2 linked regions of the Homo sapiens genome follow. The gene in region 2 interacts genetically with the main gene of each other region. Each region holds a gene or a part of one and is shown on either strand. Other genes may lie near its edges.

What was found. A genetic interaction does not mean that the proteins touch.
Region 1: changes in NEURL2 (region 2) and PTP4A3 together harm fitness less than expected from each alone (positive genetic interaction), as found in Homo sapiens cells (one study listed by BioGRID).

The regions. Positions count from the first base shown.
Region 1 is NC_000008.11:141,395,021-141,402,635, forward strand, and holds part of PTP4A3 (protein tyrosine phosphatase type IVA 3), read left to right. Parts: intron 1-5,550; exon of another isoform or gene 5,551-7,615. UniProt on the Homo sapiens protein: Protein tyrosine phosphatase which stimulates progression from G1 into S phase during mitosis. Enhances cell proliferation, cell motility and invasive activity, and promotes cancer metastasis.
Region 2 is NC_000020.11:45,888,209-45,896,850, reverse strand, and holds NEURL2 (neuralized-like protein 2), read left to right. Parts: upstream 1-5,642; 5' UTR 5,643-5,859; coding exon 5,860-6,601; exon of another isoform or gene 6,602-7,963; coding exon of another isoform or gene 7,964-7,977; coding exon 7,978-8,093; 3' UTR 8,094-8,217; downstream 8,218-8,642. Other genes in the region: CTSA (lysosomal protective protein isoform b preproprotein), read right to left, coding at 1,718-1,857, 1,950-2,028, 2,110-2,201, 2,779-2,863, 3,540-3,631, 3,971-4,126, 4,367-4,453, 4,528-4,578 and 2 more. UniProt on the Homo sapiens protein: Plays an important role in the process of myofiber differentiation and maturation.

The DNA of each region.
Region 1 (7,615 bases), on a different chromosome or scaffold from region 2:
ACGGGTGCTTCCTTCCACCCAGGAGCCTGAGCAGAGGGTGGAGGGTCCTGGCAGCTACCTACGGCAGCTGAGAGCTGCGCTCTTTAGCCGAGCGGGATCAGGGCTACGTGGACACAGCCCGTGCCAGTGTGGGTGGGGCACGAGCTGTGGGTTCCGATGGCCCAGTAGGCGTTCACCTGGCAGAGAGTGTGCGCGTGTCTCCCCTCCTTGGGGCGCCTCAGGTCAGGACCCTGAGAACCTCACTTATCCTTTGAGCTGCGCCAAGGCTGTTGTACAAAAGACAGTTCAGAAAATAAGGACAGGCTGTTCCTCCCAGCCAAGGGTGTGGCCCTAAGGACCCCTAGGTGGGGCATCGCTTCCCGCCAGGCACGTGCCACTCAGTCTTGGGCTGCTTTAGTGGCAGCCTCCTGGTTTGGAAGCGGAACTGAGGGTCAGGGATGACCACATGGCTCAGGGCTCAGCTGGGGTCCTGAGAGTGGGCCCTCAGGTTTACCTTCCTCCTGGAGGGGAACTGGGGGCCATTGCCCAGTGCACCCCCACTTCCCCTTAGGTGCGTGGGCCACCCCTCCCTCCTGCAGCCCCCGTTCATCTACCCAGGATAGGTGCATGGGCCACCCCTCCCTCCTGCAGCCCCCGTTCATCTACCTGGGGAAGGTGCGTGGGCCACCCCTCCCTCCTGCAGCCCCCGTTCATCTACCCGGGGTAGGTGCGTGGGCCACCCCTCCCTCCTGCAGCCCCCGTTCATCTACCCAGTGGGGATGTCCCCTGGCTCCTCTCCTGGCATCTTCCCGGGATGTAGGGGTGCTCCCATGCCCCCCGGCTCCTCTCCTGGTGTCTTCCCCAGATGTAGGGGTGCCCTCATGTCAGGGCTTATGCTTCTAGAAGGAGTGGAAATGCAGCACAGTCATTGCTGTTGCCTGCCAAGGGCCACCCTGGCTGGGGACAGATGGGGCTGCCTCCCCTCTCCCACCCTGTCCTGGCCACCTGCCCCCGCCAACCCTGCCACTGGCTCAGAGGAAGCAGGCCTAACCTGATGTGTAACCCCCACCCCTGCCGTGACTGTAACCCCGTGCCATGTGAAGGTGGGGCTCCTTGGCAGTGCCTGGTGATTGCGGTACAGCCAGAACCGGCCCCATTATCTGGGCTGTGGGTGCCATTGGTCAGGACCGTGATGGACTCATACGTAAAACTTGATGCATTTTAACTCCCTTCATCCTAGAGGATTGAGACCTCTGGCGGGTAAGTGTTCATATTACCGTCCTGCCCTAGAGCCAGGGAAGGACCCTAGGGGAGAAGTGACGTGCCAGGGTCACTGCTGGGAGGAGAGCAGGAATTTGAACGCTGGCCATGCCTCCTTTTTGGGGAAAGGTCAGTAAATGGGCAGGGGAGGGTGCTGGTCATTTGGGTGATGGTGCCAGTGGGGTGAGCAGCTCCAGGTCATCAGGTGGTATGGAATCTGGCCCCGGGCAGCCCGTCCAGCATTCCTCTCTCACCGAGCCCACAGCCCTGGAGCACCTACTGTGTGCCTGCTCTGGCCCACTGGGAACAGGACAGTCCCGAGCCCTGCCCCGAGGAGCTGGCGCCAAGTGGAGCAGCTGCACCACAGGCACACGGGGGACAAAGGGCACCGCTGATGATTTGGCCAGGAAGAGATGAGGTGGGGATGGGGGCTACAGGGTGGGGAGACGGTGGCCTCGGGAAGGGCTAGCTTGGCCACGCCAGCTTGGTCATGTCACCTTCTGAGTCTCAGTGTTCCCTTCTCACGTGGGACAAGACCACGCATAACCCGAGGGGCTGCATGTGTGGAGCCGACAAGCTGACGTGCGGGTCCTGAGTGCACTGAGCCCGCTGGGGTTCCAGACACAGTGGATGAACGATCCAGGGAAGGAAACAGCCTGGGCTGTGCTCTCTGGGACCTGCCCTTGAGCCAGGTACTCCTGTGGGAGGGTAGCCGGGCTGGCTGGGGGCCTGGAGCCCACAGCCTCTCCTCCCTTGCTGTTTTCCCGGCCAGGGAGGAAGCCAGGCTGGAAGACCCCAGAGGGCTAGGGGGATGAACACAGGTTGATCTGTGTTGAATTTGGCTCTAGCCACCTCCTCAGGGCCAGAGCGGCTCCTGGAGCCGGAGTGAGAGCTGTGTTACACGCAGGGAAGCCGGGGCTCGGGGAAGGTGGCTGCCAGGGTGTGCAGGGCTGTGCCAACCTCATCCTGGTGGGTCCCTGTGACAACAGGACAGGCTGCCTGCCCATTGTACAATGAGAGGCTGATGCTCTGTCACTTCATGAGGTCACACAGGCTCCAGGCAGTGGGGGGCTCTCTGAAGGAGGTCCCAGTGACCTGAATGGAGCCCCCGGGTGGGCTGAAACTTCTGCCTGTAAGGCCTGTCCTGGGTTGGGGTTGGGTGGGAGAGGGCAGGAGTCCTGCTGGGAAGGGCCTCTGCCATGCCCAGCTCCTACCACAAGTACAGAACAATGACAACTCCGCCACCTGGCTGCCCCACGCTGGGCACATGCTCCCCGCTGGCCTCAGTTGGGAGTCCAGTGAGTCAGGAGGTGAAGGTGGGGTGCACGTCCCCTGCAGACCCTCACAAGGCAGGTGGCGGGGCGGGTATTGGTCATGAGAACCCTGCCTTGGGGCCTGAGTGCCTCGGTGGCTGTGGAGCCTGGTTTCGACCTCTTTGGGACCAGTGTTCTTGTCCATAAAAGGCAGTGATCTTTCTGGATAGTTCAGAGAGATTCTGTTATCTTTGCCCATCAGAGCTGGAAGGGAGTTGAACAAAATGTTTTGCAGAAATTGGACCTGAGTTGGGCATTGCTCCTCCTGCTGCCCCTGGTTCTGAGGGCTTGGCACCACTAGCCCGCTCTCTGTCCAGGGTCGGCCCGGCTCCTGCCTTTATCATGTGTGAGCCTCGCTGTGTGTGGCTCAGTCCTGGACGGGCCGAGACCTGGATGCAGGACCCTGGACAGTCAGCGCAGGCGGAGCAGGGAGGGAGGCGTCTGCCTGAGGCCTGCTTGGAGGTGCCCAGGCTGGAGCCCTTGGCCCTGGAAGATGTGGTCAGGGCCCAGTGGTGTTGGGATGGCCAAGAAGAGGGCCCCTGTGCCTTCTGCCCAGGGCTTGGCCTAGCCAGTGCTCAGGGTTTATTTGCTGGATGAGGGGTGGAGTGGGCCAGTGGGGCCCAGGTCTCCTGCTAGGTGACCCTCAGAGGTGGGCATAACATCCCTTGGAGTCTCTGCTCTGCACTTGCCAATAAGAGGCTGGACCATTTGAGTGGTTATAAGTTGGGAAGCACTCCCTGATTGCTTGGTTCTGCTTGAGGCACAGCCTCCAACTCCCAGAGATTCCAGCACCCCTGCAGGAGCCAGCGTTGCTGATGTGGGCAGACGGGCGTCTGGGAACACCCCAGACTCAGCATACTAGGGTTCAAGTCCCTGACTCCCATCCTGGGGCATGGAGTGGCAGGAACCAGGGAATGTTCTAGAGTGAGGTGGTGAGGTGGAGCAGGGCCTGCGGGGATCAGATTTCCCTGGGGTGGGGTCCTGGAAATAGGGCATCAAGAGGAAGTCTCTAACCCTGGGAGTTGGAGGGTCTCGGGTCCATGGCTGAGGGTGGATGTGCTAGAACTGGACTCTGGAACCTGAAGACCCCCGGATGAGGGTGCTCAGGGCCTGGCTGGGGAGACTCTTGCCTTGTTCTCCCCAGTGTCCAGGCCTGGGCTGCCCAGGGGACACTTCAGTTGATGACGTCATTGTCCAGGAGGCTTTTCTCTTGGACCTCAGTTTCCCCTTCTGCAGGATGGGCTGGACCCACTCTGTCTAGCTCTACCACCCCCTAGTCCCTCTGGGGAGCTGCAGGAGCCTGTTCCCACGGCCTCGTCCTCACCCGCCACGGAGACCTCGAAGCCAGGCCTGGCCCAGCTAGAGGAGGTGACGGGTGGCCCTGCCCTGTCCCTGTCCCCATCTCAGTCCCCTTCCCACGGGACCGGTGCTCCCGGCTGCTCTCCTGGCCCTGGGTCCCTCCTGTGACTCAGGCTTCCTGGAAGAGGCTCGGGAGGGCTCGGAGGATTCCCCGCCACCCCACCCAGGGTTTCTGCCCGCCTGCCTCAGGTCCCTGTCACCACCCCTCCTGTGGCACACGGTGTGCTTTACCTGCTCATCCACTCCGCCCTTGCCCCTAGAGCCGGTGCCTCTTACTCCTGGCACCCCCACTCTGGCATCTTCTACTGATGCCTGGAACGCTGGCCCCCTCCTCTGGCTCGCCTGGTCCTGGGGCCCCTGCCAAGGCAAACATCTTCTCCTTTAATCTCCCCGTCCTGGGTCAGCCGCAGAGGCCCTTCCTCCCGGGCTTTGCTTCCCTCTGGCCAGCTGCCCAGAGGCCCATCTGCTGGGAATTGCCGTGTGGAGCTCAGGGGGTCCCTGGGGGTGCCCGGGGCTCCCGGCTGCCCCTCCCCTCGGTGGCCTCCCTGTCCCCTCCGCATGGCCCTGGGGAGCTACAAGGCCTGGCCCTGGCTCTGCCGACTCTCCCTGCTCCTGCCCTTTCTGGGCCTCCGTTTTTGTGTCTGGAGAATGGGGAGCCTGGGGGAGACCCCGGCCCCCACAGCAGATGGGTGGGATCAGGACAAAGGCCTGGCAGCTGAGCTCCAGCCACCTGAGCCAGGCTGCTTGCTTCTGAGTCGGTGACTGCAATGGATGGACGGGGTCCTGGTGGCATGCCCTTTACTCTCTTCCAGGCCTGTGACCTGGGGGAGGGCTGTCCATGGGTGCCTCAGTTTCCCTACCTGCCAGGTTGTGTTCTTGGGGCAGGCTGGGGACGTGCAATGGCAGCACTGCGGGACCCACAAGGAGCTCACATGGGGGAGAGGCGACATTTGAACAACGCTTCAAACATGTAGTTATTGTTTTCTCTTTTTTGAGACGGAGTCTCACCCTGTTGTCCAGGCTGGAATACAGTGGCACGATCTCAGCTCACTGCAAACCTCCGCTTCCCAGGCACAAGCGATTCTCCTGACTCAGCCTCCTGAGTAGCTGGGACCACAGGCATGCGCCACTATGCCCAGCTATTTTTTGTAGAGATGGCATTTCACCATGTTAGCCGGGCTGCTTCTCCTGGACTCAAGTGATCCTCCTGCCCCAGCCTCCCAAAGTGCTGGGATTACAGTGTGAGCCACTGCGCCCGGCCCACCACTGTGCCTGGCCTGCCTCTGCGCCTGGCCCACCTCTGCGCCTGGCCCGCCTCTGCACCTTGCCCACCACTGTGCCCGGCCCACATCTGTGCCCGGCCCACCACTGTGCCAGGCGCAAACGTGGTTATTGTTTTAGACACACATTTGGTGATGTTCATTATAAAAATTCAAACAGCCTGGGAAATACACGGCTGCAGTAGCTCTGGGCTTCTGCTTCATTTCACAAGAACCGTGCCGGCCTCGGGTGCTGTTTTACAGTGTCACTTGAAATTTCCCTGGGTGTTGACTGGGGTCCTCTCCCGATGGCACCCTTGGACCCTGGTCTCTGGGTCTGGTCAGATGCTTGTTTATTAACCAGCCATCCCCCCACCCCCATGATGGGCTCTCCTAAGTGAGGCCATGGACAGCCAGGATGTGCGTCTCGGCACCGGGGTGAGTCTTTCTTGGCCCGCTGGCAGAACCCTGGGTCAGATGGGAGGGTTGTTGGTGCCCGGCTGTGTGTCTGCCAGCCCCTTCATCCCTATCCTGGCTGCTGTGTAGCTCCTGCCTCCCCATAACTCTTGGGGGGCTGCCCGGGTCCACACTGGCCCCGTGGGGATGGCAGTAGGCAGAGAGGGGCGGTCCTGACCCCAGAGAAATCCCATGGGTGAGTAGGACTTGTAGGAGATGGCAGTTCCCTCCCTGGAGCATGTGTCCCCAAGACTTAGAGGTCGTGGTGGGGCAGGAAGCAGGTAGTCAGGGTGGGCTTTTGGGAGGAGATGGCATCACAGTACGGAGGGAGTCATGCACGAGGCACCAGGAAGGGGCAAGCCGGGTGAGGACAGGCTCCTCCTGGGGACCCAGGACCTGACGGAACGGCATCACTCTTAATGGCACCGTCGCGAGCCTCTTCTGGGCCAGCAGCCGGAGCTCACCCAGGGCACATCCTTAAACCTCAGGGTCCCCTGGTGGCAGCTGCCATGGTCGTCCTGTTTCCCAGGGAGGGAAGCTGGTGTCTGAGGCTGGCACTCTGCTAGGTAGCACAGTTGGGGAGTGGCAGTGCTGGGATGGAAGACAGACAAGCTGGCACCTGCACATCTGCACGTCCTGTCGTTGAGGTGACCTCTAGCCAGCCAGCTCATCTGCTCCTTTGCAGATGAGGCCAGAGAGACGGGAGTCTCTGGTGTGGAGGGGAGGGCACTGGGTTTGGTGGGCTGGCCCTGGGGTAACTTGCCTGCCTGTGCTTCAGTGTCCCCCTCTGTAAACAGGGTGTGACGTCCCCCCGGCCATGTCGGAGGCTCCGAGAGGGCAGCGGGTCCATCTCAGCAGATGCTCTGCTGACGGATGCTGCTGGCTGGCCCCTGCTCCCACCCTCCCCTCCTTTGGTAGCCTCCCTGGGCCGGGCTGTTCCCACGGCTGCCCAGCCACAGGAAGCCATCTGGAGGCCTTGTTTACCCCTCCCCCTGGCCTCCCTGGCAGGAAGTCACCGGAAGGGCCGTCCCGAGGGGCCCCGGGCCTGTGAGGACAGCCATCGGCTCAGAGGTCTGTGCTGTGGAGTCCCAGGATAGCATGCGGGGGCAGGGAGCTCAGAGAACAGCAGGTGGAGCGGGGCTCCAAGGCACTGGAGCACGTGGGCCGGAGCATGGACAGAACCATTTACCGAGCGCATCCATCTGTCCATCCACACAGTCACCTACCCCTCCCCCGCTGTGGCCCCAGCAGGGCCCAGTCCCATGAAGCTCACAGTCTCAAGGCATGGACGAGGCCACTCCAGCTTCAGCCCAGGGGGGCCCCGTGATGCCAGGGCCATTCCTCCAGCTCCCGGGATCCCACACCTCCCCTGATATCACACAAGCCACCCTGGGTCGGGGCTGGAGGAGGAGACCTGGGCAGCAGCTGGGGTGTCCAGGAGAAGGGAGTTGGGGAGAGGGGTGCCAGCAGAGGGTGCAGCCTCTAGAAACATTGGAGGCCGCCCTGGGTGACGGGTCTGAGGCTGCAAGGTGTGGGTGGAGCAGGTGAAGGGAGAGGTGGGCAGGCACAGCTGGCAGGGGCTGAAGGCATGGATGGGACCAGTCGGGGTACTTGTGGCCCTGCAGAACCCCTCTCTCCACCACCTCCTCCAGCCCTCTGGCGCCCTGCTCAGGGAGGGCTCCCCCAGATAACCCTGTAGGTCTGGACCCTCCTGGAGTGGGCTCAGGGGCCTGGGTTTCCACTCCACAGGATGGGTCCAGCTGCCCCGGCATTTGTGGCAGCCCCAGTGCCCACTGACAGGCCTGAGTGTAGCTGGCTAGGCCCAGGGCCTTTCCCACAGACACTGCCAGCAGGGACTACCTGGCCCTAGGGGGATCTTTGACCTCCGTGGGGCCTTGCGCCCTGTGTTCTTGGCGGCCTCGCGCCTGTCCCGGCCTCCTGCCTTCGGGAGCTGGGTGGAGTGGGGGCAGGCAGCCCTGCCCCCGCCCA
Region 2 (8,642 bases):
TTCCACTCCCCTTTTTGGGGGGGGGCCACCTCTCTAGGACTGACTTGGATGTTGGGCTGGATGGGCTGGGATTCAGACAGCCTCAACTCACCACCATTTAGAAAGGTACAGGGATGCTGGGCGTGGTGGCTCACGCCTGTAATCCTAGCACTTTGGGAGACCGAGGTGAGTGGATCACGAGGTCAGGAGTTCGAGACCAGCCTGACCAACATGGTGAAACCCCGTCTCTACTAAAAAAAAAAATACAAAAATTAGCCAGGCGTGGTGGTGCGTGCCTGTAGTCCCAGCTACTCAGAAGGCTGAGGCAGGAGAATCACTTGAACCCGGGAGGCGGAGGTTGCAGTGAGCCAAGATCGCAGCACTGCACTCCAGCCTGAGTGACAGCAAGACTCCATCTCAAAAAAAAAAAGAAAAAGAAATGTACAAGGGACGCATTTTGGTTGTTACGAGGACTGGGATGCATCTGGCATTTAGTGTCTAGGGGCCAGCAGGTGTGGGAGTCACAACATACAACAGGGTAGAGTGTGAGCACTGACCAATCAAAATGGACCTGAGCAGCCCTGCTGGGCCCAGTGTTACCCTTTTACTTGGGGTTGTGGGGGGGGGTGGCCACAGGAGACTGGACATGGAAGTTAACAGTTTGTTATTGTTGTTTGAGATGGAGTTTCACTTTTGTTGCCCAGGCTGGAGTGCAGTAGCATGATCTCAGCTCACTGCAACCTCTGCCTCCTGGGTTCAAGCGATTCTCCTCCCTCAGCCTCCTGAATAGCTGGGATTACAGGTGCCCAACAGCACACCTGGCTAATTGTTGTATTTTTAGTAGAGATGGGGTTTCTTCATGTTGGCCAGGCTGGTCTCGAACTCCTGACCTCAGGTGATTCCCCCACCTCAGCCTCCAAAAGTGCTAGGATTACAGGCGTGAACCACTGCGCCCAGTCGGAAGTAATAGTTATTAACCAATGTGATGGCCGGGTGTGGGGACCCTCGCCTGTAATCCCAGCACTTTGGGAGGCCAAGGAGGGAGGATTGCTTGAGACCAAGAGTTTGAGACCAACCTGGACAACATAGTGAGACCCTGTCTCTACAAAAAAATTTTTTAAAAATTAGCCAGGAATGGTGGCATGTGCCTGTAGACCCAGCTACTCAGTAGACTAAGGTGGGAGGATCGCTTGAGCCTAGGAGGTTGAGGCTGTAGTGAACTGTGAAACAACAACCAATGTGGCTACGTAATGAAATGGGGCTGGGCGGGGTGGCTCATGCCTGTAATCCCAGTACTTTGGGAGGCTGAAATGGGCAGATCACTTGAGCCCCAGAGTTCAAAACCAGCCTGAGCAATGTGGTAAAACACCATCTGTACAAAAAATACAAAAACTTGTTGGGGGTGGTGGTGCGTCTGTAGTCCCAGCTACTGGGGAGGTGGGAGGATTGCTTGAGCCCATGAGTTTGAGGCTGCAGTGAGCTATGATCACACCACTGCACTCCAGCCTAGGTGACAGAGTGAGACCTTGTCTCAAACAAAAAAATTTTAAATTTAAAAAAGATAAAAGAATGAATTGGCTGACTCTCAATCCACTGAGGGGTCAGGGATGGATGTTAAACATCCTCTACAGCTCATCTCATTGAGAAACTCTACACAGAAGATCCCTGAGAAACCTGCCGATGCCCACAAGCCCCAGCAACCCACCACCCCAAGTCACAGGTGGCCACGGAACCTCACTTGCACATGTCCCATTGTGGCAGCTGCTCCGGGATGTTGAGGGCCTTCCGCACGTACGGGTTGTTGAGGTAGGTGGAAGCAGCTGTTGTGTTGGTGCAGGGGGGGTCCATGCGCACTTTATCCCCTGAGCGCAGCAGTGCCTGGAAGGCACAGACAGTGGGTCAGGGCCTCTGCTTCCCTGCCCCTCCCCCTGCCCCCACCTCACCAGGAGGAAGCCCACGCCCTCGCACACCTGATGCCACATCCGCTTGAGTGGCAGGCGAGTGAAGATGTTGCCCAAATCCTGGACCACAACAGTGTCCTTCTCATACCTGCAATGTGAGGTGGGGGAATGGGTGTGGAGCCTCCAGATGGGGCTGGGGTTGGCTCCAGGGGCACCCAGCAGCACCTACCTAAAATGGCTGGGCACCCCTCCAGCACACGGGGCATAGAGATTGTAGATGTTGAGGCCAGAGTTGCCCACGATGCGGGCCACTTCCTGAAGCTGCAATGATACACCAAGCCACCATGCTTTACAGATCCCCAGCCTCTCCACGACCCCACCAAGTTGTCCCAAGATTTACTGCTCTTGGATTTCACCTCTTCACCCACTTTTTTTCACAGGTAGGGAAACTGAGGCTCAGTGGCAGGAATCTTCCCAGACCTGGGTCCAAATCCTAGCATCACTGCCTCCCAACACTGTGACTTCAGACAGTGATTTCAAAATTCATAGCCCTCAGTTTCCTTATCTGGAAAATGTGGGTAGTATGATCTCATTTGAGGGGGAATCTTGAAGCTTAAATAATCTACATAGACACAGTTCAGCACAGTGCCTGCCACGTTGCAGGTGTTTGATAAATGTGAAGAAGTCCTTTCTCCTCACGGAGGTTATGGGATTTGCCACCATAGGAGGTGGTGGTGGGAATACACACTTAGACACATGTCCCAGAGAACACTAAATTGCTTAAAGGTGCAAGAAAGCAATGAGGGACGGAGAACAAGGAGTCCCCAAGGAGGGAATGTGGTCCTGTTCTCAGGATTAGGGATGGGAGAGCTCATGCAAAGTGATGGCAGAACCTCACATTGGTCACGCATTCCAGGTCTTTGTTGTCATAGAAGTTACACTTGTTTTGAGAGCAGCAGTGGGTCTGGAGAGAAGACCAAAGCCTGTAGGAGATGAGAGTGAAAAGCGCATCAGCTGCTGGTGGGAAGAGGAAGGCAGAGGAGGCGAGCATACCCCCCACCTCCCACCAACCTCCCTGACCCTAGGAGACTGGGAAAGATATCACAGGGTGTGGTCTGTATGTCATCTAAGCTAGCTCCCAAAGAGGTGCCCCAGGGTCATACAGACAGGCCTCCTTAGTTCCTTTAAAATCTGATTTCTGGCTGGGCGCTGTAGCTCATGCCTGTAATCCCAGCACTTTGGGAAGATCATTTGAGGCCAGGAGTTCAAGTCCAGCCTGGCCAACACAGCAAAACCCCATCTCTACTAAAAATACAAAAAATTAGGCAGGTGTGGTGGTACGCGCCTGTAGTCCCAGCTGCCTGGGAGTCTGAGGCATGAGAATTGCTTGAACCTGGGAGGTGGAGGTTGCAGTGAGCTAAGATCGTGCCACTGCACTCCAGCCTGGGTGACAAAGTAAGAATCTGTCTCAAAAAAAAAAAAAAGAAAGAAAGAAAAACTGATCTCTATTCTTTGGCCTTTCAGCACTAGGTTCTTTCTGCAACCCACCTGCTGCTCATAAACCTGGGCTGGGCCTGTCATATCATGTGCCTGGAGGACAGACCTGAGATCATGTGACCTGCCTCACCCCAGAGATTGCCCAACTGCCCTATCCCATACCTGTTCCCCAGAAGGCCATGGTAGTAGGCAAAGTAGACCAGGGAGTTGTCATTCTGCTCATAGGAGGAGAGTCCATTGCCCACAGCCAGCCCCTGTGAAACACCCAGGGTGCTCAGCTCATGTGGAGGGCAAAAAGGAAGAGCCTCCCTCACCCTACCACCCAGACCTTCAGCAATCCGGAAGCTGAAACCCAGGGTGGTTTATGTAGGCCGGTGGGTATGAGAGGCCACTCAATGCAAAACACAGAGCTGGCAGCCTGACAGGTGAGTTTCCTGTGTGGGAGGCACACAGACAGACCTAGGGCAGCCGGTGGTGGGGAGGTTATGCAGGAAGCTGGGTTGGATGGGGACATTGACCAGTCAGTCTGACCTTGCTAACTGTAAGGCCACAGCCTCAAGCTACCTCCCTTCCCTCCTGCAGCTACCCTGCACCTGAAGGTTCATGCTGGGATCCTGCATGACCAGCACGGCCAGGGTGGGGATGTAGATGCCAGCATAGCTCTCCCCGGTCAGGAAAAGTTTGTTGTTCTTGTACTCCGGAAAGAGGCGGAAGAAATCTTGAAGGGCCTCAAAATTGCTCTGGGCGACCTGGGGATGGCAGAGCAAGACAGAGGGAATCAGGAAGCTTTGGTATTTGAACTGGAAAGAACTTCAGAGATAATGACATTAACCCACCCTATTTGTGCAAGAGGAAGTGACTGGCCACCATACCACAATAGCATATGACAGAGCGAAAAGTAGACTCCAAGGCCATGCTCTCTCTCCCAGCATCATGCCATGGATGGAGGACCGGGGAGCCTGGGGCAGATGGGCAGGCACCAGACTCACCTCAGTGTCATTAGTTGCATAAAACTTGTCATCGGAGTAGGAGAAGCCCACCCCAGCTGGGGACTCCAGGTATAACACATTGGCAATCTAGAGGGGAGGGAAAAATTAGCTAAATGCCACCCCATCCAAGTGCCCAGACACACCCACAGCTCCAGCTATACCAGATTCCAAGAATAGGGGTTGTACTCCAGGGTGACACCATCTGGCTGGACCTGAGGAGGAAAGAGATGGCTGAGTAAGTCCCAAGGGCCAGCTGGGTGGAGGGAAAGGGCCACCATGAGAGGCACTTTACATGTGGGTAAAACCTCTGAGAGGTACAGGCAGCAAAGCCAATGGCATAGAGGAAAATCCCGAGGCTTAGAAGGAAGGAAACTTTTTGGAAAATCACAAAGCCCCTCTCTCGCTTTCCCCAGCCTTTTACTTTGGGAACTGTGCTTTCCCCCTGCTGTCCACTCACCAGGAAGGGGCCATGCTCTGTGAGGAGCCCATCTAGTGAGCTGCAGCCGGGACCCCCATTGAGCCAAAGCACCACAGGGCTGTTCTCGGGATCCTTCTGGGACTCCACAAACCTGGGAGGGGGGTCAGGGCAGGGTTGGCGCAGTTGGAGGGGCCCTTTCCAGCCCTCCCGGCTCCCAGGCATCCTCAGGGGTCTGCAGAACTACCCCCCATCCCTCATCCGTCATCTCTTCTCCCAATCCCGCCCAGAAGGCAGGGCGGCAGACCAGTAGTGGAGGTGCTTGGAGCCGGAGCCTTTGAGGTAGCCGGAGTACTGGCGGAAAGACGGCTGCTTGGCCAGCCCGGGGAGGCGCTGGATCTCGTCCTGGTCGGGGGCTGCCTCGCCTCGGGACGCCCAGGACACTAGCAGCAGCAGCAGCAGCAGCAGCAGGAACAGCGGCGGCGGCGCGGCTCGGATCATCTACGGGAGGCAGCAGAGGGGCTGTTGACTCGCTCCTCAGCGCTTCCGTGCAGCAGCCCCCGGGGAGTTGCTGGCGGCGCCTCCGCGAGGGAAGCCCCGGCCCCAGCGCCAGCTCCCACCCGCGAGCCTCCTCTGCCGCGCACCGATCCCGGGCTCGGGGATCCCCTCCAGCCTCCGGTGCCAGCTCACCTCTGCTCCCCCGCGTCCTTGCTCTCCAGGAGGCGCCCGGGGACTGGAAGTCATGTGTACGAGTCACGTGAACTCCGGCGCCACGTGACAGTCTTCCTCCCGCCCCTTCTTTGGTCCCTACGGACCTGGGGGGCGGTGGCGGTCAATGCCGGGTCAAGGTCCGCGGGCCTCGCAGATCGTAGCCCGGGCGCACGCGATCAGATGATCCTGTTGTGGACGGCTAAGTTGTAGGCGGGATGGCTGAGAAAGCGGCGCTAGGACCCCCGGGCAGAGGCTCGGGGAAGGGAGTCAGGGGGGAAATGCCTTACAAGGTCGCCTTGCGGTCACCATCATTGCCCGCCGCCCAAAATAGCCCCCGGCGCCAGCTGGCCTGCCCTATGGCCGAGAGATGGCTGCTGCCTCCGAGCCCGTGGATTCGGGTGCACTCTGGGGACTCGAGCGCCCGGAGCCCCCTCCCACCCGCTTCCATCGGGTGCACGGTGCCAACATCCGCGTGGACCCCTCTGGGACGCGGGCCACACGCGTGGAGAGCTTCGCCCACGGCGTGTGCTTCAGCCGCGAGCCGCTGGCCCCGGGCCAGGTCTTCCTGGTCGAGATCGAGGAGAAAGAGCTGGGCTGGTGCGGACATCTGCGTCTCGGTCTGACCGCGCTGGACCCCGCCAGTCTGGCCCCCGTTCCCGAGTTTTCTCTGCCCGATCTGGTCAACCTGGGCCACACCTGGGTCTTCGCCATCACGCGCCACCACAACCGCGTGCCCCGGGAGGGCCGCCCGGAGGCGGAGGCAGCGGCCCCCAGCCGACCTCCAACCCTCCTCGTGGAACCATATCTGCGCATTGAGCAGTTTCGCATTCCCCGGGACCGCCTGGTGGGCCGCAGCCGGCCAGGGCTCTACAGCCATCTCTTGGACCAGCTCTATGAGCTGAACGTGCTGCCTCCGACCGCGCGCCGTAGCCGCCTGGGTGTCCTCTTTTGCCCGCGCCCCGATGGCACGGCCGACATGCACATCATCATCAACGGCGAGGACATGGGCCCGAGCGCCCGGGGACTGCCAGCTGCGCAGCCCCTCTACGCGGTGGTGGACGTGTTTGCTTCCACAAAGAGCGTGCGCCTTGTCCAGCTCGAGTATGGCTGTAGGTATCCCTGGGCAGCGACCCCTCCTGGCTCAGTGTGGGGACTGGAATCTACTAGGGCTCCGTAGCCCATGTGCTAGGCCTTCGTCTGTCCGGCACTAGTTTAAGAGTGGGAGAATCTAGCTTCAAATTGCACCTCTGCTTGTGATCTTGCACAAGCCTCTACATGGTTTTGGGCCTTGGTACCTATCTTGGTTGATTGATTAAGATGCCCTACAAGTTCCCTTTTAGTTTTGATAGTGTTTCCTGTATTCACCTAGGGCAGGGATTCTAAACCAATTTTAGATATTAGGGGCCTCTTTGAGAATTGTTTGCCCTTTTCTTAGAAACATGCTTGGCCGGGCACAGTGGCTCACACCTGTAATCCCAGCACTTTGGGAGGGGGAGGCAGGCAGATCACTTGAGGCCAGGAGTTCGAGACCAGCCTGGCCAACATGGTGAAAGCCTGTCTCTACTAAAAATACAAAAAGTAGCTGGGTGTGGTGGCATGTGCCAATAATCCCAGCTATTCAGAAGGCTGAGGCAGGAGAGTCACTTGAACCCGAGAGGTGGAGGTTGCAATGAGCCGAGATCTCACCAGTGCACTCCAGCCTAGGCAACAGAGCAAGACTCTGAAAAAAAAAAGAAAGAGAGAGAGAGAGGAAGAGAGAGAAAGCAAGCAAGCAAGCAAGCTAGCTAGCTCAAGCCTGGGCAACAAAGTGAGACCCCATCTGTACAAAAAATTAAATAATTATCTGGGCATGGTGGTGCATGCCTGTAGTCCCAGCTATTTGGGAGGCTAAGGCAGGAGGATCGCTTGAGCCCAAGAATTGAAGGCTGCAGTTCACTGAGCACTGCACTTCAGCCTGGGTGACAGAGCAAGACCCTCTCTCTTTAAATAAAAAAAAAAAAAGAAAGAAAAGAAAGAAACATGCTCATAGACTTGGGCATATTGGCTATTGGCTTCGAGGCATAACAAACCCCAGACTGAGAGCTTCTTAATGCTGAGTATGATTCATTATAGCCCTGGTAAGCATTGCAGTTATACCTCTCATCACATTTCATGAACTCAATGCACCAGAACCCTCTTTGTGCCAGGCCTGTGCTGGAGGCTTCAGTTGCACAGGCAAATCAGACACTACCCCTGCCCCCAGAAGCTGCTAAGTGAATGGGGAAGGGATTGTGCTAAGTGTTATGATATAAACAGGGCTGCAGCTTTGTGGCAGCTCTCAGGAAGAGGTGCTTCTCTCAGCCCCATGAAGCAGGCTGGGCCCAGAGAGCAGTAAGGACTTGCCCACATTTAATGACAAAGTGGGGACCATGACCTAGACCTTCTGGATCTTGGCCTCAGACCCACCCTCCAGTTCAGTTTGCCTTTCACAGTCTTCTTCCCACAGTGCCATCCCTGCAGACTCTGTGCCGCCTAGTGATACAAAGGAGCATGGTGCACCGGCTGGCCATTGATGGGCTCCACCTGCCCAAAGAACTTAAGGATTTCTGCAAGTATGAGTGAAGACCCACAGTGCACCAGAGCACAGCTGCATCCTGGAGCCCCAGACCTGTGGCTGGCTGGTCCGAAGTTGGCCACATTGCTGCCAGCCAAGACCAGAAATAAACAGCCGATGCTGACATCTTGATCACTGGAAGGTCTCCTTGCCCCTACAGCCTATGAGAGTCACTTCGTTTAGAATCACTGCAGGTCAGCAGGTCGGAGCAAAAGAGCAGGGGTCCCTAGGCTGGCTGCTTGTTAGAGTCATCTTAGGATATGTAAAGAGTGCTGGTGTCCCACATCCCATCCCTAGGGATTCGTATTTGATTTGTTGGGAAATTAGGCCTAGACATTGTGTTTTGTAAAAGCTTCTCAAGAGATTCTCATGTACAGCCAGGGTTGAGAAGTATGTCCCTAGAAAAAAGGTTCCAACTTTGTCATATATTATAATCACTTGAGGAATTTTGAAAAATACCAATACCTGGCCTGTAATCCCAGCACTTTGGGAGGCCGAGGTGGGCAGATCACTTGAGGTCAGGAGTTTGAGACCAGCCTGGCCAACATGGTGAAACC